3 separate regions of the Homo sapiens genome follow, and regions 1 and 2 are each linked to region 3. The links come from fine-mapping of genetic effects on gene expression. A gene starts in region 3. Each other region holds a variant in brackets. All regions are shown on one strand. Distances are between the middles of the regions.

Region 1 (8,171 bases), 20 kb before region 3:
GAGCTGCCCACGAGCCCTGATTCATGGGTGCACCTGGGCCCACCCGAGGGCTGGAGATTCATCTCTCACCACATCCAGGAAGGGCTGGGCAGTTGCCAGCTCCTGGCACGCCAGATTTCTCCCCTCCTCCCCCGGCTAGGACTGTGCAAGGTGGACAGGGGCAGGAGGGACCTTCGCAGAGCCTCTTGCAGCTTGGGCAGGGACAAGGACCACCCTGCACACTCTCTGTGCCCTTCCCTTTGCTCTGAGCTTGGCTGCCAGGCAGGACCTTAGTGGAGCCTGGCGGAGGGCTGGGCAGGAAGAAGGCTGGCCGCCCCACCCTGCTCTCTGGGAACCAGTCTCTTTGAGTCACAAAATGCAAAGACTTGGCCTCCACCCTAAGAGGTCACCAAGGCCATCCCCCTGCCTGCGGCCCAGGCAGGTCATGGACAAGCCTGGTGGCCTGGGCCTAAGCTCCCAGAACTGACCCCAACCTTTTCCTGGAGGGAAGCTGTCTCCACCCTGGGGCCCCGGCCAGCATCCTCCGGGGGCAGTGATGACCCTGTCCAGCATCCCCACCAATGGTTTGCCCTTGAGGGCCGAGGCTGTCCCAGTGACTGGTGGGAGCTGAGCTCGACTGAGTGTCCACCAGCCTCAAATAAACTCATGGGGACCTCGTGAGCCCCACCCACCTGCAGCCTGGGATCAACTCCCCCAGCCTGGGACTGGGGAGGGGCAGCCTCTACACCCCACCTTTCAGAGGTACCCAAGCCTCACGGCCCCAGAGGCTCACTCCTGCCAGAGCTGCCCCGCTGAGGATCTTCCATAGGGAAGGGCAGTGCCCGGGATCACTGAGACGCTGTGGAGTGTTCTGGACAAGTCAGGGGCAGAGCAGGAGCACCCCTGAGATTGTAGCCGGGGAGACCAGGGCCGGGTGCGGTGGGGGCAGCTCAGGGCTCCTCTAGGGGCAAGAAATTCTCCCCAAGGCCTCCCTGCGTCAAGGGAGCTGCTCTGTGATTGAAGGAGGCCTGAGTGGACGGGCCACGTGGGACAGCCCCTCCTCAGGGCATCTCTGAGCTGCTCAAAGCACATGGGACCCACTCTTCACCCAGCCCTCCTCTCTGTGCCTGTCTGTTTGGGTGTTCACTGACATGGGGGACGGCCACCTCTCCGCTCACCCTTTCTGGCTGCCTCTGGCCACCTCTCCCAGCACCACCCTGGAGGTCAGGCCCGCCCAGCAGCCGGGGACGGCGCAGAGGACAGGGCAGCCCGGGACAAGCCAGAGGATAGGGGAGCAGATATGTCCCTGGGACTTGAGGCTCATATGTGCATTGCTGGCCATGGGGTCCAAAGACGGTTATGGCCAAGCCTCAGCCAATTCTGCAGCTTTGGAGCCAGGGCTAGGCTGGCTGTCTGTGGGGGACAGATGGCAATTTGGGGGTGCTGAACGATCTGTCCAATGTGGGGTCCAGCAGGCTGGTCAGAGGCTGCCGCATCCCAAAGGTAGCAGGGCCGGGAGGAGGGGGCGGCCCAACCCCCAACACCACACCCGCACCCACACCCGACACCACACCCACACCCCTGGCCTCGAGAAGCTCAGCTCCAGGATCCCGGTGCAGTGGACCTCTGAGGCCCAGTCTGGCTTCAGGAAGCGCCCAGCTCGGCCATGGAAGGTCAGGGCTAAAGTGTCCCCACCTCACCCATTTAGGGGCTGGGCGGGAGCTCCCCAGGAGGGCAGGGTCTGGGCAGGGGCCAAGCCTGGGAGGGCCTCGCCTAAGGACCCCTGGGTCACTGTAGCACCAGGCTGGGCACCGCTCCCCACAGAGACCAGAAGCCGGAAGTACCATTCAGCGCAGGGGCTGGCTCCGGCAGGGCACAGGTGGAGACCCGATCCCAGAGGCTGCTCCCCACCTCTGTGCCCACCCCCGGTCAGGGCTGGGCCTGGATCTTCAGGGACTCCTGCCTCCCATCGGGGGAACGTGGGGTGGCACACAGGGAGCCTGGGCCCACGCCCCTGAGATGGGGGCTCCTGCCTCTCACTCTGGGGTTCCTTTGAGGCAACCCAGGGGGATGGGGCCACAGATCTGAGAAGAGCCAGCGGTGAGGAAAGGGCGCTCCTAGCAGGGGCAAGGGCTGCCAGGTGCTGTGGAGCTGGGCAGGGACCCTTGGTCACAGGCCTCCGCAGCCTCTGTCACCCCACGGTCCCAGCCCTCCAGCCTAGGGCAGTTTCTGCTGGGCGCCATGGAGGGTGGCCTATGTTTGAGGATGAATCTGGCTCTGTTCACCAGAGAGCGTGGGACGGGCCAGGAGAGCACCCAGCTGGGAGGGAGGCAGCCACTGGGGGTTAGATGAGGACAAATGTCCGAGCTCAGCTCCTCCTGGGCCTGGAACCTGGGCTGCTCCCCGAGGCCCTGCCCACCCATCACCCAGTGCTCAAGGACAGTCGGATCCGGCTTCTCCTGGCACAGACTGTTTATTTCTGATGGGGTCGTGGGGGCAGGTGTGGCTGAGCCTCCCACGTGGAGGGGGCACCAGCGAGGCTGGGATGGGCGGTGAGGGTGGGGCTGCCAAGGGCCGGGCCAGGCTCCAGCGTCCTCAGGACAGAGGGTGGCCGGCCCAGGCAGAGAATCACGGAGGGGCTAGAGTGAGAGGAGGGAGAAGCAGAGACCTGCAGGAGAGAGAGGGGTGGAGGGGGTGCCAGGGCCAGGAGGAAGGAGGGCCTCGTGGATCCCAGAGTGGCCCGGGACCCCCAGGACCCCTGGCAGTCACACTCGTGGCTCACCACGGGCTCTTCTGTGAGGCAGGAGTGCTGGTCAGAGGCCCAAGGGTCCAAGGCCAGGGTCGCACGACCTCTGACCCGGGGGCTCCTGCCTGCCCCCAGGGCTGCCTTGGGAGCTGCAGGTGGCCCAGTACAGGGGACCCAGGAGCTTGGGCAGAGACCCTCAGAGGCCCTGGGTTGGGTGGGGGGGACACTCCAGGCCGCAGGTGTGTCCAGGTTTGGGCCCCGCAGTGTCCCCCACACCTGGAGCAGTTGGTAGCGAGGCTCCGGCAGG[G/C]CCCCAGCTCACTCTCAGCTCTCAGAGCCTCAGCTGCTGTGGCCTCAGCTCATGGCCTCCCTCTTCCCACGGGGCCCCTGCGTCTGGGGGGCCTGGCCTCTTCCAGCTCAGAACCCTCTTGCCTCAAGCTTGGCCTTCCCGGCCAAGGCCCTTGGGTCAGAAATGGGGGCTGACAAGGGCTTCCCTGCAGCCCCTCCTCCGGCACTGCCGTCCCCTCCGCCTGCCGTGTACGTGGGGTGCCTCCAGTGACCCCGGGTCCTGCCAGGACCCTCTGGCACCTGGCCTTGACCTCCGGACCCCTATGGTCTCCTGGGCAGTCCTCCCCGCTGGGCTGCACGGACAGGATTGGGGCTGGTGCCTCTCAGGTTGTGTCATTCAGGCACCAGACACCCTCTCCTCGGCGGACACTGCTGCCCGGCCCCAGGCTTTGGCCTGCAGGGCTCTGGGCCAACCTCCCCGCATCAGTGTGGTCTCTGCTTGCCTACCCCACACCCCCAAGGCCTGCCGGGGCCAGTCTGGGGCAGGAAGGGAATGTGGTCAAGGCTGATGCCCAGGATCTGGTCAAATCTGATAAATTTCTCCCTCAGGTCTAAATCCAGCTCCTTCCCCTGCCCTGTGCCAAGAAGGGGGGTGAGCCCTGGGGAGACCCCTCCCTCCCCAGCCCAGCCCTCAGGGGGTCCTGCATGGCCCCTTCCCGCCGTGCTCAGGGCCTCACCGAGCAGCTTGGCCTGGGTCCCTTCTCCTGGCGCTTGGTCTCGGCGTAGCCTCCATCTCGTCATTTTCCAACCCCACTTCTGCACGGAGCAGGCGGGTCAGGCAGGGCTCAGGACCCTACTGCTGGGGACAGGCTGCTGATCATGCCCCCTCTGGGGCCACACCAAGACCTTCCCTGGAGTGTCCATTTTAATTTATTTATGTTTTTCGAGTCAGGGTCTTGCTTTGTCGCCCAGGCTGGAGTGCAGTGGCACGGTCACAGCTCAATGCAGCCTCCTGGGCCCAAGCAATCCTCCCTCCTTAGCCTCCCAAGTAGCTGGGACTACAGGCATGCACCACCACACCCAGCTAATTTTTCAATTTTATTTTTGTAGAGATGGGCTCTCCCCATGTTGCCCAGCCTGGTCCCGAACTCTTGGCCCCAGTTGATCCTCCTGCCTCGGCCTCCCTAAATGCTGGGATTACAGATGTGGAGTGACCTTAACCTGGGGCAGTTCTGGGCCTTTCTTGGGGTGTCAGGCAGGGAAGACTCACCCTCCCGGCCTCCAAGGGGGTTCTGAGCTGGCTGCTTCTCCGGGACAGGGGTCCTGGCCCAGCGTTTGCAGGGTGGGTCCCTGTGGGAGGAGGTTGTGGTGGGGAGAGGCTGGGGTGAAGGCTTTGGGGAGGGGCAGGTCGGATGAGCTGGGGAGGGGAGGCTTCCTGGCCTCCCGGAGGGTCCTGCTCCCCACTCTTCCTGAGGCTGCTCTTCCTGGCAGCCTGCCTGTCCCCGCCTCTGACCACGTCCCCTCCCCGTGGAAGTTCTCACTGGATGCATGGAATTGGGATGTCCCAGCCACAGCCACCATGTCCCTGGGCCCTGCACCCTGCCCTGATCTTCCCCTGCCCCTGGGTCTCAGGACAGGCTCCTCCTCCAAACTGCAGGCCCCGGGGGAGAAGCAGGGGCCCCACAGCTGTGCTGAGGGTGTGGGTGAGCTCCCTCAAGGCAGGCGCTGCCTCCTTCCACCCACGGGGTCCACCCACCTGCCTGTCTGTATGAAGGGTCTCCACCCCACAGCCCTCCGTCTCCCCTCCCCGGGCAGTCCCATCACCCGGCAGGGGCTCTGGGCACCCAGCCTCAGGTGAGCAGGCTGGACATGACCACGGCTGCCACCAACATCCTGAATTGGGACCTGCGCTCCGGCCTGAAAGTGTTGACCGCCAGCCCCAGGACGCACCACTCCCCCAGAACTGCAGGGGCTGGCAGTGGGCAGGGCCAGGACCCCCTCCCCAGGCAGGGGTTCCAGGCTGGGCTGGCACCCGTGACTCTGGCAGGAGTCCGGATCTGACAGGGATGGGTGACCCTGGCCAGTGGGTGGGCAGCCTTCCTGAGCCTCACTTTCTCCACCTGCACAGAGGGCGTGAGCTCTTCCCACCTGGCAGGGTTCTCCAGGGCCATGAGGGCCATGCTCACTGTGGCAGTCAGGCCCATCGGCCCAGCTGCACCCTCCTTCCTCCTTCCCCATCCTGGAGGCCACTCACCCGCTCCTTTCTGAGGCCAGGCTGGAGACAGATCTTGTGGAAAGGCAAGTTCAGGCCCCTCTGGGGGCCCTGGCGCTGTGGCTGGACCGTCCCCAGCAGGGTGAGGCCCACCCACAGGAGTCCCAGGGCTCCACACAGGGCTGCAGGGGGCAGGACTCTGGGGCAGCAGCTGGCCTGGCAGGGGGTGAGGATGGGGGTGGGGAAGGGGGTGGGTGAGGGTCTGGGCTGGGACCCCCTAGTAACGAGGTCCCCTGCTGGCCCCCACCCCAGGACAAGCAACCTCTTTTTCTCCAAGTGCAGGAAGGGTGAGATTTTGCCCCTCTCCCTCCTCAGCAGCGGGGCTAAGGGGCGAGGCAGGGCAGAGGGAGGCTGGGCTGGGGAGGCAGGGGGCCCTCCTTGGACTCAGCCCAGCAAAGATTGAGGAGCGTGCCTTCCACTGGTGCCCACCATTCCCTGGTCTCAACCTTGGGAGGGGAAGCGGGGTGGAAATGTGGGCTGAGGGTGGGCACCCGCAGAGACCACCAGCTCCCAGGGAGGCCCCAGGCCTCAGCTCTGATTCCCAAAGCCCGGGTCCCTGCCCTCGTACCCCTACGTCCATCCTCGGAGCTGTCGCCCCGAAGGCTCCCGGCCAGCCCTGGGTCAGGGTGTGACGGCAGAAGACACCGTGCGAGAGTCCACTGTGTGCCCAGCATGGGTGGCCGCCTGGAGCCTCCCTGCCCTGTCCTGCCCTGAGGCGTCAGCAGGATCAGGCCAAGCTGTTCCCTGGCCCGGGGCAGGCTCCAGAGCGCTGGTGGTGGGTGGGACGGAGTGTGTCTGTGCTGAGGCTGCTGGCACCCACCCTGCTCTGCCCACGGGTCCAGTCTGGGCCAGGACCTCCCAGATGCAGCCCCACCCCTGTCCTCCAAGCCTCCTCTCTCCTGGGTGCAGCAGGTCTTGGCCCCACTCCCCCAGGGCCCTCAGCCCATCTGCCTCCCCTCGACAGCTGCTGTGCGGGGCTGCGGACTTCTTACCACCCTGGTCCTGTAATGAGGCCCCTGGGGATGGCTGACCCTGGGAGGCCGCTGCTGACCTTAGCTGGGGCTTCCCCAGAGGACCTTGGCCTTGGCCTGGCCACAGCCCAATTCTCAGGGGTCCCAGGGAATATGTGCATTTCTGAGTTCAGGACTTGGTGACCCGGGCGCTGGGCTGTGGGGGTGCGTCAGCTCTGGGCCCGTTGGCAGAGGCACGATGGGCAGGTGGGCCAGAGGACGTGGGCGCAGGCTGGAGGGTCCAGACACCTCCCACTGGGCCCAGCAGTCTCTGGGTTCCTCTAAGGCCTTGGGGGGCCTCTGTCCTCTTCCAGGATCCCAGCAGCTCCCTGGAGCTCAGCCTGCATTGGGGAGCATCTTGTGGGTCTTTGGTCTCTGCCTCACCCCCAGGTGCCCTGTCCTGGGCTACCCACCCTCCCTCAGGCCTGCTCACAGGGCACTTGGGTTATCTCTGGAGGGCCCTGGGCCAAGGGCAGCCCAGCCTGTGTCAGGAGCTGCAGCCAGGTTGCTAGAGAGCCCGGGCCTCCTCGCCGAGGGCTGTCAGGGCTCAGCTGTCCCAGGCAGGAACCTGGTGGCCGGCAGGTGGTGGGTGACATGACACGGGGACCTCACCTTCTCTCACTGTCTCCTCCACATCCAGCCTCCCTCAGGTCCCTCCATGTGACTAAGGCTTTGCACAGACTCCCAAGGACCCCCCGGCCATGTGCCCTCTGAGCAAGCGAGCGGTATTAGAGGCGTGGCAAAGAGGTCACAGATGGGGCCCGGCTGGTGTGCAGGGGGCTCAGGGGCCCCTCCCTCCCAGGAAGAAGCCCCTCCCCCACCCGCCCAGCCACGCTGGGGTGAGGGCTGCCGGGGCGTGGGCAGGGGAGGGGCGAGCCTAGAAGGGAAACTGCCAGGACCCTTGGTGGGGGCTGACCCTCACCAGACCGAGAATTAAACAAATAGAAACAAAGATGTAATAGGGGCCGGGTGCGGTGGCTCATGCCTGTAATCTCAGCACTTTGGGAGGCTGAGACAGGCACATCACGAGGTCAGGAGATTGAGACCATCCTGGCTAACATGGTGAAACCCCGTCTCTACTAAAAATACAAAAAATTAGCTGGGCGTGGTGGCGGACACCTGTAGTCCCAGCTACTCGGGAGGCTGAGGCAGGAGAATGACGTGAACCTGGGAGGCAGAGCTTGCAGTGAGCGGAGAGCGTACCACTGCACTCCAGCCTAGGCGACAGCAAGACTGTGTCTCAAAAAAAAATAATAGTAATAATAAAAATTAACTTCCCTTAATTTTCTGATATTTAAAGATTACAACATACTTCAAGAACATGACTCATTGTTTTTACTTAAAAAGTGAGTTTTATCTTTTTCTTGTTTACTTCACATACTACACTGATGTAAATATCCTTTTAAAAATTTTATTTATTGAATGTAAACTTTTATTATTATTATTATTTTTTGGATATAGTATCTTCCACTGTCGCCCAGGCTGGAGTGCAGTGGCATGATCTTGGCTCACTGCAACTTCCGGGTTCAGGGGTGGTAGACGCCTGTAGTCCCAGCTACTTGGGAGGCTGAGGCAGGAGAATGGCGTGAACCCGGGAGGTGGAGCTTGCAGTGAGCCGAGATCGAGCCACTACACTCCAACTTGGGTGACAGAGTGAGACTCTCTCAAAAAACAAACAAACAAAAACAAACAGAAACAAAGATGTAATAGGAAGATCCAAGTCAAAAGCTGACTCTTGGAAAAAACTAATATAGTTTAAAACTATAAAAAACTAACATAGGGCCGGGCGCAGTGGTTCACGCCTGTAATCCCAGCACTTTGGGAAGCCAAGGCAGGTGGATCACATGAGGTCAGGAGTTCAAGACCAGCCTGGCCAACA
Region 2 (8,171 bases), 240 kb after region 3:
CGCTGGAGAGAGGCCCCGTGCGCTACGCAGGCTGCGGGGTTCAGGGCTCCCCACGCGCGCCCCCGGTTCGAGGCCGCAGAGCCAGGGCTGGTCCTTCCCCTGGGTCCTCAGGATGGGGTCAGACGCGCGGAGCCCTGGGCTGGCCGAGCCTGCAGCCCGCCCCGGGGTCCGACCCTTCCCTCCTGGCTGAGACCCCGCGCCTTGGCCACTCGCCGGGAGGACACTTCCTTCGCCTCCGCGTGGGGTGCTCGGGGATGAGCCGTTGCCGCCTCCATAGGCAGGTTCCGTGTGAACAGAAGCTTTCATTGCACTTCGGTAAACACCTGGGGGGGCTGAGTTGGACGGTGAGGGATGTGGGGCGCAGCCAGCAGCTGCCAAGACTCGCTCCCTCCCCGCGGCCGCCGGCGCTTCCAGCTGCTCCGCATCCCGGGCGGCTCTTGCTATCGGCAGGTTTTTACATTTTAGCCATTTCCCTGGTGGTGGCGTCTCGCTGGGGCTGTGGTTCGCGTGTTTAACACACTTTCTGCGTGTTCAGTTACCACCTGTGTATCTTCTCCAAAGTCTATTCAAGTTTTTGACCATTAATAAAAATCACGTTGTTTCTTTATTATTAAGTTTTGAGACTTATTTACATTTTGGTTTTAATTTTTAATATCTAGAATGAGACTGGGTCTCAGTGTTTTGCCCAGGCTGGTCTCGAACTCCTGGGCTCAAGGGATCATCCTGCCTTGGCCTCCCAAAGTGCTGGGATTACAGGCATGAGTCACCTGGTGCCCAGCCAAGACTTTTTTTTTTTTTTTTTTTTGAGAGGGAGTCTTGCTATGTTGCCCAGGCCGGAGTGGTCTCAAACTCCTGGCCTCAAGTGATCCACCTGCCTCAGCCTCCTAAAGTGCTGGGATTACAGGCGTGAGTCACCATGCCTGGTCCGAGACTTCTTTATATCTTCTGGATATCTGCCCATTATTACACATGTGATTTGCAAAGATTTTTCTCCCAGTCTGTGGCTTTCTTTTCATTCTCTTAACAGTTTCTTTCTTTTCTTTTCCTTTTTTTTTTTTTTTTTTTTGACGGAGTTTCACTCTTGTAGCCCAGGCTGGAGTTCAGTGGCGCGATCTCAGCTCACTGCAACCTCCGCCACCCAGGTTCAAGAGATTCTCCTGCCTCAGCCTCCCAAGTAGCTGGAACTATAGGTGCAAGCCACCATGCCCGGCTAATTTTTGTATTTTTAGTAGAGACGGGGTTTCACTATGTTGGCCAGGATCACTCCTGACCTCATGATCCGCCTGGCTTGGCCTCCCAAAGTGCTGGCATTACAGGCATGAGCCACCGTGCCTGGCCACACCAGGCTAATTTTTTAATGTTTTGTAGAGATGGGGTTTTGCCATGTTGCCCAGGCTGGTCTTGAACTTTTGGGCTCAAGCGATCCTCCCACCTTGGCTTCCCAAAGCTCTGGGATTCTGGGCGTGAGTGAGCCACTGCCACCAGCCCGGATCGTGCTCTGAGTGTGTCATCTCTAAGAAATTTTTGCCTAACCGAAGGTCACAAAGGTTTTCTGTGCTTTCTTCTAGAAGTTGTATAGTATTCGGCTTCATATTTAAGTCAATGACCCAATTCCAGTTAACTTTTGTGTATTGTGCAGGGTGTGGATCAGAGGGTTTTCAGTTTGGGGCTTGGGGGTTTTGTTAGCATTTTTTGCACATGGACATCCAATCCTTCTGGCATCATCTGTTGAAAGGATGAGCCCCTCCCCACAGAATTGCATGGCAGGGAGTTAAACAGAGAGGGACAAGGCCAGGGGGCAATGGGGTCAGGGTTCTATGCCAGGTATAGAAAGGAGGGGTGGGCCTGGGGGTGTGGCAGTGGCCTAGGCCAGCGACCTGGATGGACAGGGCTGGAGGCAACGTGAGGAAGGGGAGAGGGGCCAGTGGGAGAAAGTAGCAGGCAGACCCTCCCAGTCTCAGTGACCCCCAAGGTAGCCGTAGCCCAGGCTGGGAAGAGGGACTGCCATGTCCCCAAGTGACCTTTCCTCTCTCCCTCGATCCAAGCACTGTCTCTCTGCCAGCGAGGGTCCCGGAGCCCAAGAAAGGGAAGAGCAGTACGAGAGGGTGGGACACAGAGCACAAGCACCAAGAGGCCAACACGTAGGCTTCTCCCGGCCTGGAGGGAGGCCTTGCCATGTTTACAGCTGGGAGAGCATGTGCTTCCCTGCATGGCCTGTCCTCCTCCTGCAGGAGGGCTGTCCCAGGGCCAGGGGGAGTGGGTGCAGGGCAGTGGTGGTCGGTCCGGCCTGCAGGGAGCTCAGCTGGAGGGTGCAGGAGCCCACACCTTCCGTCAATGTGAGCCAGGCCAAGACCGCGGCCAAGAAAGTTCTGGAGGGTCTCCCGAGGAGGGCTTCCTGGGGGAGGGGCGCAGGAGAGCGTGATCCGTGGGTCAGGATCTGGGGAAGGTGTGGGCCATGAGAAGGATGAGCGCAGCCTCAGTGCCACTCCCAGGCTGCCAGGAGGGAGATGGCCCGCCCTGGGAGGAGTGCCTGGTGAGCGCATAGCCGGCCCTGGGTGACCCTGTCCCCGAGATCTTCCAAAAAGGCATTTCCCAGCAGGGCCCGCGGGACGCGGTGCTCCCTCCAGGCAGGGACCAGTGACCACGTTCTCCTTTGCATCTGCAGGCCTGGCCCAGAACCTGCACACTGTCCGTGGCCACTAGCCCATCAAGTGTTCATGGAATGGGCACTGGCCGGGTTCCAGTTCAGTTTGAATGGGTCTAGTTCTCGTTTTGGGGCCCTTGTTTCTACGCCACCAATGGGTGACATCCACCTGCCTGGAACATGAATGGGGCAGAGGACCCGGGAGGTGCTGACTGGTATCTCAGGTGTGGGGGCGGGAACTGGGCCGTGCCTTGCTGTTTCTAGGGCCTTTCGTGGCCTGAGGCCCTGAGCTCAAACCCTGGCCAGGGCAAACGACAGGTAAACGAAAGGTCCACTGCACAGACACAGACGCAGAGACACAGGATCACACACACCTTCGGGGCAGGCTCCGGGGACAATTCTGAAAGTGGAGGACCTTCCTGCCCTGTCTTTCCTTCCCATTCGTCCTGAGGCCTGGGAGTTTCCTCCCCAAGCAGGGGGCCCATTGCTCTCCCTGCCCTGCTGCAAAACTGGCATGTCCCATTCCAACTGCTATAACTGCGTCTCTTCCCCAGGCATCCCCTACTCACACCCAGACCTTTTTTTTGAGATAGAGTCTCGCTCCGTTGCCCAGGTTGGAGTGCAGTGGGGCAATCTCAGCTCACTGCAAGCTCCGCCTCCTGGGTTCACGCCTTTCTCCTGCCTCAGCCTCCCGAGTAGCTGGGACTACAGGCGCCTGCCACGGCGCCCAGCTAATTTTTTGTATTTTTAGTAGAGACGGAGTTTCACTGTGTTAGCCAGGATGGTCTCGATCTCCTGACCTCGTGATCCGCCCGCTTCGGCCTCCCAAAGTGCTGGGATTACAGGCGTGAGCCACCACGCCTGGCCTTTTTTTGTATTTTTAGTAGAGACGTGCTGAGACCAGCTCAGTCAGGGAGACCCTATCCGAGCGGCGTTAGAGGAATTAAAGACACACACAGAGAAATATAGAGGTGTGAAATAGGAAATCGGGTCTCACAGCCTTCAGAGCTGAGAGCCTCGAACAGAGATTTACCCACGTATTTATTGACAGCAAGCCGGTGAGCACACCAGGTGAGCAGCCGTTTAGGGGGCCCTGGTGGATCGAGGGCCCTGGAGAGCCACGAGCTTTCCCTCAGACGGTGGAGTGCGGCGCGTCAAGTTTCCCCCAAAGGGAGAGCTGCCACTTCCGATGAGAAGCTGACATATCACCGGGGACCCGCCCGCTGCTGTTGAATACAGAGTCTTCTGTTTGCAAAGAGAAGCTCTAGGGCCCTCCTTCCTTGTGGTGGTTGTGTCTGAGTTGAAAACCCTCCGAATGGGACTGTCAGGCTCCAGTCAC[A/G]AGGCCTCCGTGGTCAGGTGGTTCACTGGGACAAGAGCTCGTTGTAAGCTAATTTTGCTTTTTGAAAACAAGGGGTGAACCTAGTAGTCGTGTCAGAGAGTCAGTGAATCCACCACCCCAAGGGGCACATCTGGGCAGAGGCTGTTTTCTTTCTCTGGAGTTTCCAGATAACGGGATCGTCAGCCACAGGGACTTGTCGTTCAAAGGGATCACAGGGCTGTGAGGCCCCAGCGGGAGAGAGAGTGGCCTGTGGCTCACGGGGCGGCAGCTGGAATAGCCTGTTGGTTCAGGCCCTGACGTAAGCAGGCTGATTTGTGGGTTCACTAATTTATTTTATTTATATTATTATTTTTTTGATACCAAGTCTTACTCTGTTGCCCAGGCTGGAATGTAGTGGTGTGATCTCGGCTCACTGCAACCTCCACCTCCCAGGTGCAAGCGATTCTCCTGCCTCGGCCTCCCGAGTAGCTGGGATTACGGGCACACACCACCACGTCTGGCTAATTTTTATATTTTTAGTAGAGACAGGGTTTTGCTATGTTGGCCAGGCTGGTCTCAAATTCCTGACCTCAGGTGGTCCACCCCCCTCGGCCTCCCAAAGTTCTGGGATTACCGGCGTGAGCCACCTCGCCCGACCTGGATTCACTAATTTAAGAAGCCAAGTCGAATGCCCAAATGAAGCACATCCTGTCTCCAACACCCACACAGTCCAATCAAGTGCTGGGTTGTCCTTTTGGGTGAGATGAGGGAGCAAAGAGACAACAGGTTTTCCTTGACTGGCTGAGGCAGTGAGTGCTGTGGACCCACCTCCACCTACCTCATCCCAAGAAACTCCACCTGGTGAGGCAGCCACTGGACGCTGTTGATGTTTTGCCTGCCTCTGTGGACAGGGAGGTATGAGAGTACCCCCGTCTAGTTGTCTAGTTCTAGAGACCCAAGGCTTCTGAGCTGCCAACCTGCAGGACATCATCTGTATCATGGCACCTGTGGACATCAGAAGTCCTAACCTGCCCACAGGTGGCCAGTGGCGGGGCGTGTACGGGGAACACACCTAAGTGTATTGGAGACCTGGCCATGTGAATGCAAGCTGGTCTTGCTCCTCCCCTGCCAGTGGTGTGGCAAAAAGGCATTGGCAGGATCCAAGACAGTGTACCAAGTACCCGGAGCCCACGTGATGGGCTCGGTATGGTCACAGTGTGTAGGACAGCTAGGGCTCTGGGAGCAATGGCTGACTTCTGTTGGTGGTAATCCACTGTCAGCCACCAGCAGCTCTTACCTGCTCCACTGGCCACTCAGGGATGTTGTGTTGCCATATTTCATCTCTTTTTTTTTTTTTTGACACGGAGTGTCACCCAGTGATTGTCACCCAGGCTGGAGTGCAGTGGCGTGATCTCGGCTCACTGCAGCCTCTGCCTCCTGGGTTCACATGATTCTCCTGCCTCAGCCTCGCGAGTAGCTGGAACTATAGGGGCCCGCCACTATGCCCAGCTAATTTTTGTAGTTTTAGTAGAGACTGGGTTTCTCCATGTTGGCCAGGCTGGTCTTGAACTCCTGACCTCAGATGATTCACCCGCCTCGGCTTCCCAAAGTGCTGGGATTAGAAGCTTGAGCCACCACGACCAGCCTTTATTTTTTTGAGGCAGACTCTCACCCTGTTGTCCAGGCTGGAGTGCAGTGGCACGATCTCGGCTCACTGCAACCTCCACCTCCCGGGTTCAAGTGATGGGTTCAAGGGATTCTTATGCCTCAGCCTCCCGAATAGCTGGGACTATAGGTGCCCGCCACCACACCTGGCTAATTTTTTTGTATTTTTAGTAGAGACGGGGTTTCACCATGTTGACCAGGCTGGTCTCTAACTCCTGGTGTCAAGTGATCTACCGGCCTCAGTCTCTCAAAGTGCTGGGATTACAGGCGTGAGCCACCACGCCCAGCCCCATATTTCATCTCTTAGTCCCCCTACTGCCCTTAATCCCTCAATCAAACCTCTGATGCGCCTTTTTCCCTCTGGGATTCTGTACCGCTTCTGGGATTCTGTACCCGCCCTGAAAGCGGGTTGCAGAGAGATTCACACATCCCACTGGCCCTTCTCTGCATTCAGTGCTTGCCAATAGGGAGAGTCCCCTCTGGCACGTACAGGATGGAAGTATGGGGATGAAACACAGCTCCTACGCGGCAACACACACATAGAAGCATCAAAAACAGGGCATCGAATTGGCCCAAAATGCCACACCCACAAGATCACATCAGCCTTCACTCCCCATTTCAAACCGTGCACAAATCCGGTGAGCGGAATCCAGAGAACTTTTCCTTCCACTGGTCCAAACAGGAGAGTGATGTGGGCTACTCATATCCGACAGAGCCATAAAGTTTGAGTTCTTCTTCTCCTCCAAGTTCTCCAGCACACTTGGATGGTGCCCACGGCCTGGGAACCTCTAATCATCTTTCTTCCTAACGTAAGTGGAGGGGGGTGAGAGGTGGAAGGAGGAAGTCCATGAACAAGGTTCTGCGTTTATTTTCAGGCAGCGTGGCAACGGCTCATGACTCAGCCAGGGACTGTTCCATGATTTTCAATCCATCCAATGCTCCGTACCAGGCAGTGAGCTTCTCACAGCTGACCCATCTACTTCAGTTTTGGGAGCCCCATGGCTTAGTAGCCATTGCCATGTTGTTTTCAGCTGGATCTGTGGAGTTTGCACCATTTGGCCAACTCGAGCTTGGTGTCCCAGTGGCAATCTTATTTGAGGATTCTTCCTACTTTAGACAAAATAGATGTAACAGAGTTGATTTGAGCATTAAAGGAGGCATGAATCAGGCAGCACTCAAAGGTGGAAGAGGCTCTGGGAGCTCTGTCTTAGCAGTGTGAGCAGCAGGCTTTTACAGGCTGAATGTGGAAGTGAAGTACGGAAATAACTCAAGGCCAGGCTAGGCACCGTGGCTCACACCTGTAATCCCAGCAGTTTGGGAGGCCGAGGCAGGCAGATCACATGAGGTCAGGAGTTCAAGACCAGCCTGGCCAACATGGTGAAACCCCGTCTTTACTAAAAATACAAAAATTAGCTGGGCATGGTGGTGTGCACCTGTAATCCCAGCTAATCGGGAGGCTGAGGCAGGAGAATCGCTTGAACCCAGGAGGCGGAGGTTGCAGTGAGCCGAGATCACACCACTGCACTCCAGCCTGAGCAACAGAGCATGACTCTGTCTCAAAAAAAAAAAAAAAAAAGAAAAAGAAAAAAAAAAGAAAAGAAATAACTCAAGACCTTTGCCTTATTTGGGTGTGGTCTGATTGGTTGGCTGCCCGTGATTGATTGGTTGAAACCTGGCTATCTGTTAACAAACTACTGAATAAAGTTGTTGTTGGTTAGTGGGAACTCCCAGTACAGAGACGGCCTCAGGCAATGACTGCTCCTTATTTTGCTTTAAACAACTTTAATCTAGCCGGGCAGGGCATGGTGGCTCACGCCTGTAATCCCAGCCTTTTGGGAGGCCGAGGCGGGCAGATCACCTGAGGTCAGGAGTTCCAGACCAGCCTGGCCACCATGGTGAAAGTCCTTCTCTACCAAAAATACAGAAATTAGCCACGCATGGTGGCAGGTGCATGTAGTCCCAGCTACTCGGGAGGCTGAGGCAGAAGAATCGCTTGAACCTGGGAAGCAGGGGTTGCAGTGAGTCAAGATCGTGTCACTGCACTCCAGCCTGGGTGACAAGAGCAAAACTCATCTCAAAATAAATAAATAGATAAATATAAATAAATAAAATTCAGTGGTGCCTCTTCCTCCTGCTCCAGCCACGTAGGACACACCTGTGTCCCCTTCACCTTCTGCCACGATGATGTTTCCTGAGGCCTCCCCAAAAGCAGAAGCCGCTATGCTTTCTGTACAGTCTGAGGAACTGTGGGCCAATTCAACCTCTTTTCTTTCTAAATTACCCAGTCTCAGGTATTTCTTTGTACCCATGTGAGAATGGACTAATATAGATGGTTTTGGGAGGTGGTGCCTTTGGGAGGTGACAAGGTCATAAGGGTGGAGTTCTCATGAATGAGATCAGGGCCTTTATAAAGGAGACCCCTGGCCGGGCACGGGGCCTCAAGCCTGTAATCCCAGCACTTTGGGAGGCCGAGGCAGGTGAATCACCTGAGGTCAGGAGTTCGAGATCGGCCTGGCCAACATGGTGAAACCCCGTCTCTACTAA
Region 3 (8,140 bases):
TGGGGTGACCAGCCTGGTGGGGGAGATGGAGTCGGGATGGAGGACAAAGGGGGAGCAGGGGACAGAGCCCAGGAGGAAGCAAGGGAGGGCACAAAGGAGGGGCAGGTGGCTTCAGGTGAGAAGCAGGAGGGAGAAAGGGGACCAGCAGTGGGTCTAGGGGAAGGGGCTGGGGTGAGGGAGGCTGAGAAGGGGCAGAAGATGTGGCCCACAGCGGCTCCCAACAGCCCCAGGTCCTCAGGAAGCCCCTCACCTGTCCCTGTCCCCATGGGCCCCCAGACTCACTGCAGACCCAGGAGGCCTGGCATAGCGAGTGTGCAGGTGTGTGCAGGTGTGTGCAGACCAGCACGTGTGCCTGTGCACGGGTAGACAGCATGTGTGCCAGTGTGAGTGGCGTGTGTGTAAGTGGGTGTTCGCATGTGGAGGCATGTGCCAGTCTGTACACGTTTGCTCATGCGTGAGTGTGTGTGCATGTGGTTATGCACATGTAAAGGACCAGAGGCGGGAATCAGAAGGGCACGGTGGGCATCCCTCCAGGAAGAGGAGGGACTCAGGCTGACCTCGCCCTCCCACAAGAAGAGTCAGGCCTTGGGGGCCGCGGCTGTCTGAGTGGTCAGGCTGGGGCTGCCACCCAGGGCAGGCTGCTGAGGTCCAGGGCACCTCCTGGGATGAGTCCAAGCTCCTTGTGAGCAGGGATGGGTGAGGGGAGGAGGTGGCCCAGGACAGGGGACCCAGAGGGAGGAGATGGCCCGGGACAGGGGACCTGGGGTGGGAGGAGGTAGCCCAGGACAGGAGACCCGGGGTGGGAGGAGGTGGGCCGGGACAGGGGACCTGGGGCGGGAGGGGCAGGGGGAGGTGGCCCGGGACAGGGGACCTGGGGCGGGAGGAGGTGGCCCGGGACAGGAGACCCGGGGTGGGAGGAGGTGGCCCAGGACAGGGGACCCGGGGCGGCAGGAGGTGGCTCAGAGCCTGGGTTGAGCACAGGGACCCAGGAGCCTGGAGACCCCTGAGCGCAGGCTGGGGCTGAGCTCCCTGGGTAGACACTGGGTCCAGCTCCTCTAGGGTCAACCAAACTCATTCCTGCGGGCCCCGTGCCTACTGCCCAGCATGCCTGCAGGTGAACCATGTTACCAGTCACATCTGGGAAGACGATGTTGTCATCCGAGAGGCCCTGAGCTCTGCCCAGGCAGATGAACTGGTCCAGCGTCCCGGGAGGCAGCAACCAGCTCCTGCCTGCAGCCCAGGGAGCCCAGCATGGGTCTGTGCACTTGGCAGGGGGTTGGGGGCTGGGTAGGTGGGAGATTGAACTATCTGTACCCCCAAGTCACTCCAGGCGGGGTGGGGAGGCAGGGTCTGACCCAAAGCCTGGAAGGAGGTGCCTCCAGGGCCACACACGGGCCCAGGACGGGGTGGGAGGCTCACCCAGCAGGCTGATCCTGAGGACGGCCAGCCTGCTCGTGTGTCTGCGGGACAGCATCAGGGCGAACTGGGTGTAGTCGCTGTCCACCACCCGGGTCTCCTCTCTGTCCGCCCCGGGCTCTGAGGCGGCACAGACGTCACATCCCTGTGGGCCAGCACCCCGTCCCTCCCTCCTGTGACTGGCTTACCCACACCGTGGTCCACAGTGAACTGCCCAGGCTGGGCTGCCGGTATCAGCACATAAGACCATGTGTCACAGTGCTGGCCTCTGTAGGAGGGGACAGGTGGAGGCGGAAGGCTCCGGAAGCTGGCAGGTCCATGCTGAGGTGGGCCCCTCAGGAGATTTCAGCCACTTATTCAGAGGGACCCACGGCGGGAGTGGCCAAGCGTCATGAGTGGAGATGGTGTCTAACTATGTTGCTCAGGCTGGTCTCAAACTCCTGAGTTCAAGTGATCCTTCTGCCTCTGCCTCCTGAAGTACTGGGATTACAGGTGTGCGCCACTGCGCCCGGCCCCTAAAGTGCTGGGATTACAGGTGTGCGCCACCGCGCCCGGCCCCCAAAGTGCTAGGATTACAGGTGTGCGCGACCGCGCCCGGCCCCCAAAGTGCTAGGATTACAGGTGTGAGCCAGCGCGCCCGGCCCCTGAAGTCCTGGGATTACAGGTGTGAGCCAGCGCGCCCAGCCCCGGAAGTGCTGGGATTACAGGTGTGAGCCAGCGCACCCGGCCCCCGAAGTGCTAGGATTACAGGTGTGAGCCAGCGCGCCCAGCTGCCCACACTTTTTTGTATACTCCCCAGCTGGGTTTGGTCATTGGCAGGCAGAGTCATGAAGCTGCCTGTGCTGGGACAGGGCCCATGGCGCACCTGAGCCACTGGCGGCTGGGACCCAGGCCCGGGATCCTCCTCACCCGCTTGGAACGGCAGGGACAGCCACTCACCGAGTCATCGCATTCCACACCTCAAAGCGGCCATCATCACTTAGCTCAAAAGTTGCGGTGAAAGCGTTCAGCAGCGCCCTGTGCTCCGGCCTGAAGCTGTTGCCCGCCAGGCCCAGGACGAACCATTCCCCCTGGAACTACAGAGGCGGTGGTGGGCAGGGGCGGCGGTGGGCAGGGGTGGCAGTGGGCAGGGTCAGGAGCCCCCTCCCGCCCTCCCTGGCAGCTTCTGGACCCCTCACAGAGCAGTGCTCCTGGCTGGGCCGGCGCCAGGGACACTGGCAAGAACCAGAGCCTACTCTGGGTCTGGCAGGGACATGGTGACCCTGGCCAGTGGCTGTGCGGCCTTCCCGAGCCTGTTTCCCCTCACGCACAGAGGGAGCGATGGGCTGGGCTGACGGCAGGGAATGGGTGCCAGGAAGGTCTGCGCTGGGCCCTCCTCTGCTGGAGGTCAGGGGCCCGCCTGGGGGCTCCTGGAAGCACGGCTGGTCCTGGCTCTCTGGGCAGCATCCCCAGGCCTGCTCAGCCACCAGCCTCTCCCTGCACTCAGACCCAGCCGGCTGCTTCTCCTTCCGTCAAAACCCCTGTACCTGGTTTCCTTGGAAGCTCTGCATCGGGGGCGGGAGTGGCAGGGGGGTTGGGGTCTGGGCCTGCAGGACTTTCAGCAAGGAGAGCCACAGCCACAGGCCACACAGCAGCCTCATCCTGGCAGCTGCTGGGCCCACAGGGACAGAGAGAAGGAAGTGGCCATGGGCAGGTGACCCAGAGACCCACCTCTTCATGCACATACCCAGCAGGTGCCCCTCCCAAGGGGGTGTGCCCCTCTGCCTCCCTCCTCAGGACTGGCAGGAGAGGTGGTGCCCAGGGCAGGCTTGGTGTGGGCTCTCCTCAGGTCCCACCCACCCACCTGCGGTCTCTTGGGTTCCAGCCAGGTGGGGTAGGAGGGGCCCCCAGGTCCACCTTCCACCTCTTCTTCTCATTTCTGAGGCCCTGCCCCCTTCAGCCCCCTTCCAAGTGCCCCATGCTGGGGGTTCAGAGGCCCCACGCAGCCTGCCCCAGCCTTCCTCCCTGTCACAGAATGTTGCGTCCCAGGCAGACAGCGTGACCTGCCGCAGCCATAAGGGACAGGGCCCAGCTGTGGCCAAACCCGGGCATTCCCCCTGCAGGGCCTGGGCCTGCCAGCCGCCCCCCTACCCCCACCCTGCCTGGCTCCACACATGCCTGAACCGCAGCGTGGGCCGTGGCCCTGGAGCAAGAACAGGACCAGGGAGGGGCCCTGTGGCCATGAGGCCGGGGTGGAGGTGGCCCGAGCAGGCGAGGAGGGAGGCTGGGGCCTGCAGAGCACCCAGGCAACCTGGTGAGGACAGCTGGGGCATTTTAAACGCAGTCTCTGCCCAGAGGGAGGGGCAGGGCTGGGAAGCCCCACTAATGGGAGTGGGCACCCCATGCTGGTCCTGCCTAAAAGAAAGGATTAGTAGGCCAGGCACAGAGGCTCATGCCTATAATCCCAGCACTTTGGGGGGCCAAGGTGGGAGGATCTCTCAAGCCCAGGAGTTTGACATCACCCTGGACAACATAGCGAGACTCCATCTCTACAAAAAAATTTAAAAGTTAGCTGGGGGTGGTGGTGCACACCTGTGGTCCCAGCTACTTGAGAGGCTGAGGTGGGAGGATTGCTTTAGCCCAGGAGTTTGAGCCTGCAGTAAGCTATGATTGTGCCACTGGACTCCAGCCTGGGCAAGACTGAGATCTCATCTCTAAAAATATAAAAATAAAATGTAAACAGAGGGCTGGCAGGGAGGGCAATGGCAGGCTTGGGGCTTCTAGCTGCCCTGGCACCCCTTGGACGATGGGGCTAGGGAGTGGAGTCCCCTTCCTGACCTCTCCTCCCATCCTCACAGGTAGCTGAAGCCTCTGGGTGCTGGACTCCATGTTAGGGGTCACCAAGGGTGAGCCAGGTGCCTCCCACTCACCGTGTGCCTGGCCTGTGAGCCTCTGTCCAGGCCCCCCAGGTCCCTGTCCTGGCTGCCCCCTCCCACCCCAGATTCCCTGTCCTGGCCACCTCCTCCCCTCATCCAGCCCTGCTTACAAGGGACTTAGGCTCATCCCAGGAGGTGCCCTGGGCCTCGGCAGCCTGCCCTGGGTGGCAGCCCCAGCCTGGCCACTCGAAGAGCCCAGCCCCCAGGACTTCAGGGCTCCAGGGCTGGGCTCTGTCCCAGGCCTCACTGCCCACGTAGAAGGGCAGCTTGCTGTGCCTTGTCTCACCAGCACAACGCTAGCGTTTCAGGAGGCTGGCCCAGGGAAGGAAAAGTTGGAAATAATCTGTTCATTCCCCTGAACTCCCCAAGGCGCCTTCGACTCTCCACCATCCCCCTGGCCCCAGCCAGCCTAGGAGCGCCTGTCCGCAGCCCCAGGGTCCCGCTCTCAGCGCAGCAGGCACCCCTCCCGGAGCCCGTCTTATCGCAGGGCACTGGGGAGATTTGGGATCACAGCACACAGCCCATGTACAGGACAGTCCCCGCTACGGACCCCGCCCATGCAGGGCCCTGCGGGAGGAAAACCGGGCCTTCCCTGGCCAGCCCGAGACCCACAGAGACTGAGCAGCAGAGGTCGGGTGGGCCGAGTCCTCGACACAGAGGAGGGTCCCTCGGCTCCAAGCAGCGCCTCAGGCCCCATGCTCCCTCCCCCAGACCCACTCCTGCCGCCCTGGGGGGTCTGTGTGTGCCTCCAGGTAGCCACTGGCTGCTGCCGTTAACCTCTGTGCCCCCCACGTCCCCTGCAGGAGCCTCCCGGACACGACAATGGGTTCGGCGCGCCTCCTCCCCCCACCGCGGGGCAGACGCAGGTGCTGCTCCTCCCGTCTAACGTGATTGGTGGAGGGTGGGCACGTGACCTCCGCCGCCCAATCAGGGCCCTGCAGGTGCCTTTGCCTGGCTGGGCCGGCGGCGCTGGAACGGGCCGTGCAGGACGCGGGCCTTGAGGCACCTGCGGGGCTCCCGGGGGAGTCCTGGCTCTGACCTCGGCCTTCCATACCGCCTGGGGTGGGCGGGCCGGGCGCGGCAGCACACGCCAGTGAGCCCAGCGCTTTGGGAGGCCGAGGCGGGAGGCGGTGCCCGGGAGCTTGCGTGCCACGGGGAGGAGCAGCCGCGCCTTCTGCAAGGCGTCCTTGAGAGGCGGGAGGGAAACCGCCGCTTCCACTCAGCACCCTGGACCCCCAGCCCACCGTGGGGACCGGTCCCTGGGGCCTCTCCCATTGACCCCTCCCATCAGGTCCTCTCTTCCCTCTGCTTCGCTCCCCGGCACCCCCACCCCCAACCCATCGCCTTCATCTCGGCCTCCCCACAGCAACAAGGACAGACTTACCCTCCACTGCTCTTCCTCCGTTCCCGGAAAACTCCCGGCCTGTCCTCTGCTCACCCTCCCCTCTCTCTTCCCACTCTCCGGGCAAAGACCTTTTCCCAGACACGGTCCTGGGCGCTGGGAGGCCCCTTGGGGGTGGGGTGGGGGGCCAGGGGTGGTTGGGGCGTGGCTGGGGAGGAGGGTGCCTCGTCCCCACATGGAGGAGTCCTGGCCCACCTGTCCCTCTGAGCACCTGCGTGGGCAGGGAGGACGGGCACGGCACCTGCCTGTCGGCCCTGCCTGTGGGACCAGGGGCTCCCGGGGCCCCACACAGCACTCTCACGTCCAGGCAAGGCGGGGGCACCCAGGACAGTCCTGGACTCCTGACCCCGCAGGTCTTGGGCAAGACTGCTAACAATTAAATGTTAGTTTCTATAGATGAAAAAACTTTTTTTTTAAATAGAGATGAGGTCTCACTATGTTGCCCACCCAGTCAGATCTTGAACTCCTGGCCTCAAGCGATCCTCCTGCCTCAGCCTCTCAAAGTGCTGAGATTAAAGGTGTGAGCCACTGTGCCCAGCCAGTTTGCATAGTTTTGTTGTTGTTTGTTGTTGTTTTTTAAATAAATTGAGACAGAGTCTCGCTCTGTCACCCGGGCTGGAGTGCAATGGCGCGATCTCGGCTCACGGCAACCTCTGTCCCCTGGATTCAAGCGATTCTCCTGCCTGAGCCTCCTGGGTAGCTAGGATTACAGGCGCCCACCACCACGCCTGGCTAATTTTTTTTGTATTTTTAGTAGAGACGGGGTTTCACCATGTTGGCCAGGCTGGTTTCAAACTCCTGACCTCAAGTGATCTGCCCGCCTCAGCCTCCCAAAGTGCTAGAATTACAGGCGTGAGCCACAGCGCCCAGCCATTTCCATAGATTTTTTTTTTTTTTTTTTTTTTGAGACAGAGTCTCACTGTCGCCCAGACTGGAGGCAGTGGCATGATCCCGGGTCACCACAACCTCTGCCTCCTGGGTTCAAGCAATTCTCCTGCCTCAGCCTCTGGAGTAGCTGGGATTACAGGCGCCTGCCACCATGACCAGCTAATTTTTGTATTTTTAGTAGAGACAAGGTTTCACCATGTTGGACAGGCTGGTCTTGAACTCCTGGCCTCAAGTGATCCACCCGCCTCAGCCTCCCAAAGTGCTGGGATTATAGGCGTAAGCCACCACGCCCAGCCAAATTATGCAAACTATTTTAAAGAACAATGATTCACACAGAGCTATCGTGATTTTATGTAGTGTTTGAAATTTAACTAGAGCTCATTCAATGCTTCTGTGAAAATGAAATGCCTTGTAATCCTTGCGCTGCACATCCTCTGGTCCCAGAGCACACAGCCAAGTGGCCACGCACTTCACTCAGTGCGGGAACCCACCCAGCCCTGCAGTCAGAGGCGTGGAGGGTCAGGCTGGGCCACTCTGCCACCAACCACAGCACCCAAGGTCATCGGGTGGGTCTCTGGCGCCACCCCTCGGACATTCAGCCCTCCCTGAAGCTTGTGACCGTGGCCAGCTACCCGACTCCTCCTGCCCCCAGATGAGACCCTCACTTTCTGTTTGGGGGATGTGGGGCCAGGCATGGAGGAGGCTTTCCTGGGGCTCAGGCCTAGAGTCTTCCCGGCGTTGCCAGCTCTGAACCCTGAGCCCTTCTGCTGCGCCCTGCTATCTCATGGGTCTCTGGGACATGGAGCTGGAGTGGGGGAAGGCGATGCAAGGGTACGACCTCCTGGGCCCTTCTCCTTCCCAGGTCCCGGCAGTCAGGGCCCCTGCCTCCCCTTCCCACCACCTGACTTGCCTGCCCTCCTGGGGTCTAGCAGCTTAGTGAACAGGTGGGCACGGCAGGGGGAGCCCCGCCCGTGGGATGGGGACCCCCCTGAAGCAGCTGCTGGCTCCTCCCTGCCCCCACCCAGGCCGTGTGCTTTGGGACCAACTCCAAGGTGCCTTCTCCTCCCATCCCTGCCCACTGTGGCCGATTGGTGGCTGATCCCTGGACTTGTAAGTTCCTAGGGGGAGGGACCAGCCCACCTGGTGGTCCCAGGGCCCAGCACACAGTGGGCCTTCAGAAATGCTTATCAAACAAATGCCAGTGGCCGCAGGCAGGGCCTGAGAGGAGCAGCTTAGCGGCCAGGTCCAGGCCCAGCATGGTCAAGCCATGCCGGGTTCCTGATTCTCCGGCCCTAGCCCAGGGGCTGCCCCGAGGGCAGAGCTGGCCCACCCCCACATTCTCTTCTGCTTCCTGGTTTCACGGGGGACGTGGGAGTGGATGAGGTGTGCAGAGAGTGCAGTGGCTGTGGGTGGACAGCACCAACTGCTGCCACCAACACGGGCCAGCTGGTGCCAGCTCGGCTCGGAAGAGGCCAAAATGGGCAGTGACGGGAGACAGCTGGCCTCCCACGGGGGCGGA

Evidence for each region.
Region 1: its variant is fine-mapped to the expression of LCN12 in uterus (GTEx, PIP 0.91).
Region 2: its variant is fine-mapped to the expression of LCN12 in aorta (GTEx, PIP 0.98).

Annotation. Positions count from the first base shown.
Region 1 is chr9:136,967,153-136,975,323 of GRCh38, reverse strand. It overlaps LINC02692 (long intergenic non-protein coding RNA 2692), which reads right to left and starts at 5,912. Exons shown (of 5, transcript NR_157392.1): 1 at 5,851-5,912; 2 at 5,265-5,438; 3 at 4,281-4,360; 4 at 3,748-3,826; 5 at 2,440-2,647. It also overlaps LOC124902312. RefSeq lists enhancers at 6,356-6,855, 6,856-7,357. The variant G/C (reference allele first, on the strand shown) is at 3,033.
Region 2 is chr9:136,704,085-136,712,255 of GRCh38, reverse strand. No RefSeq gene overlaps it. Among named protein-coding and RNA genes, the nearest start is that of DIPK1B, 4.4 kb to the left of the region's middle. The variant A/G (reference allele first, on the strand shown) is at 3,984.
Region 3 is chr9:136,947,244-136,955,383 of GRCh38, reverse strand. It overlaps LCN12 (lipocalin 12), which reads right to left and starts at 3,111. Exons shown (of 6, transcript NM_178536.4): 1 at 2,943-3,111; 2 at 2,356-2,492; 3 at 1,605-1,684; 4 at 1,420-1,536; 5 at 1,129-1,230; 6 at 1-13. The coding sequence starts at 3,056. RefSeq lists silencers at 2,290-2,471, 5,095-5,594, 5,615-5,714.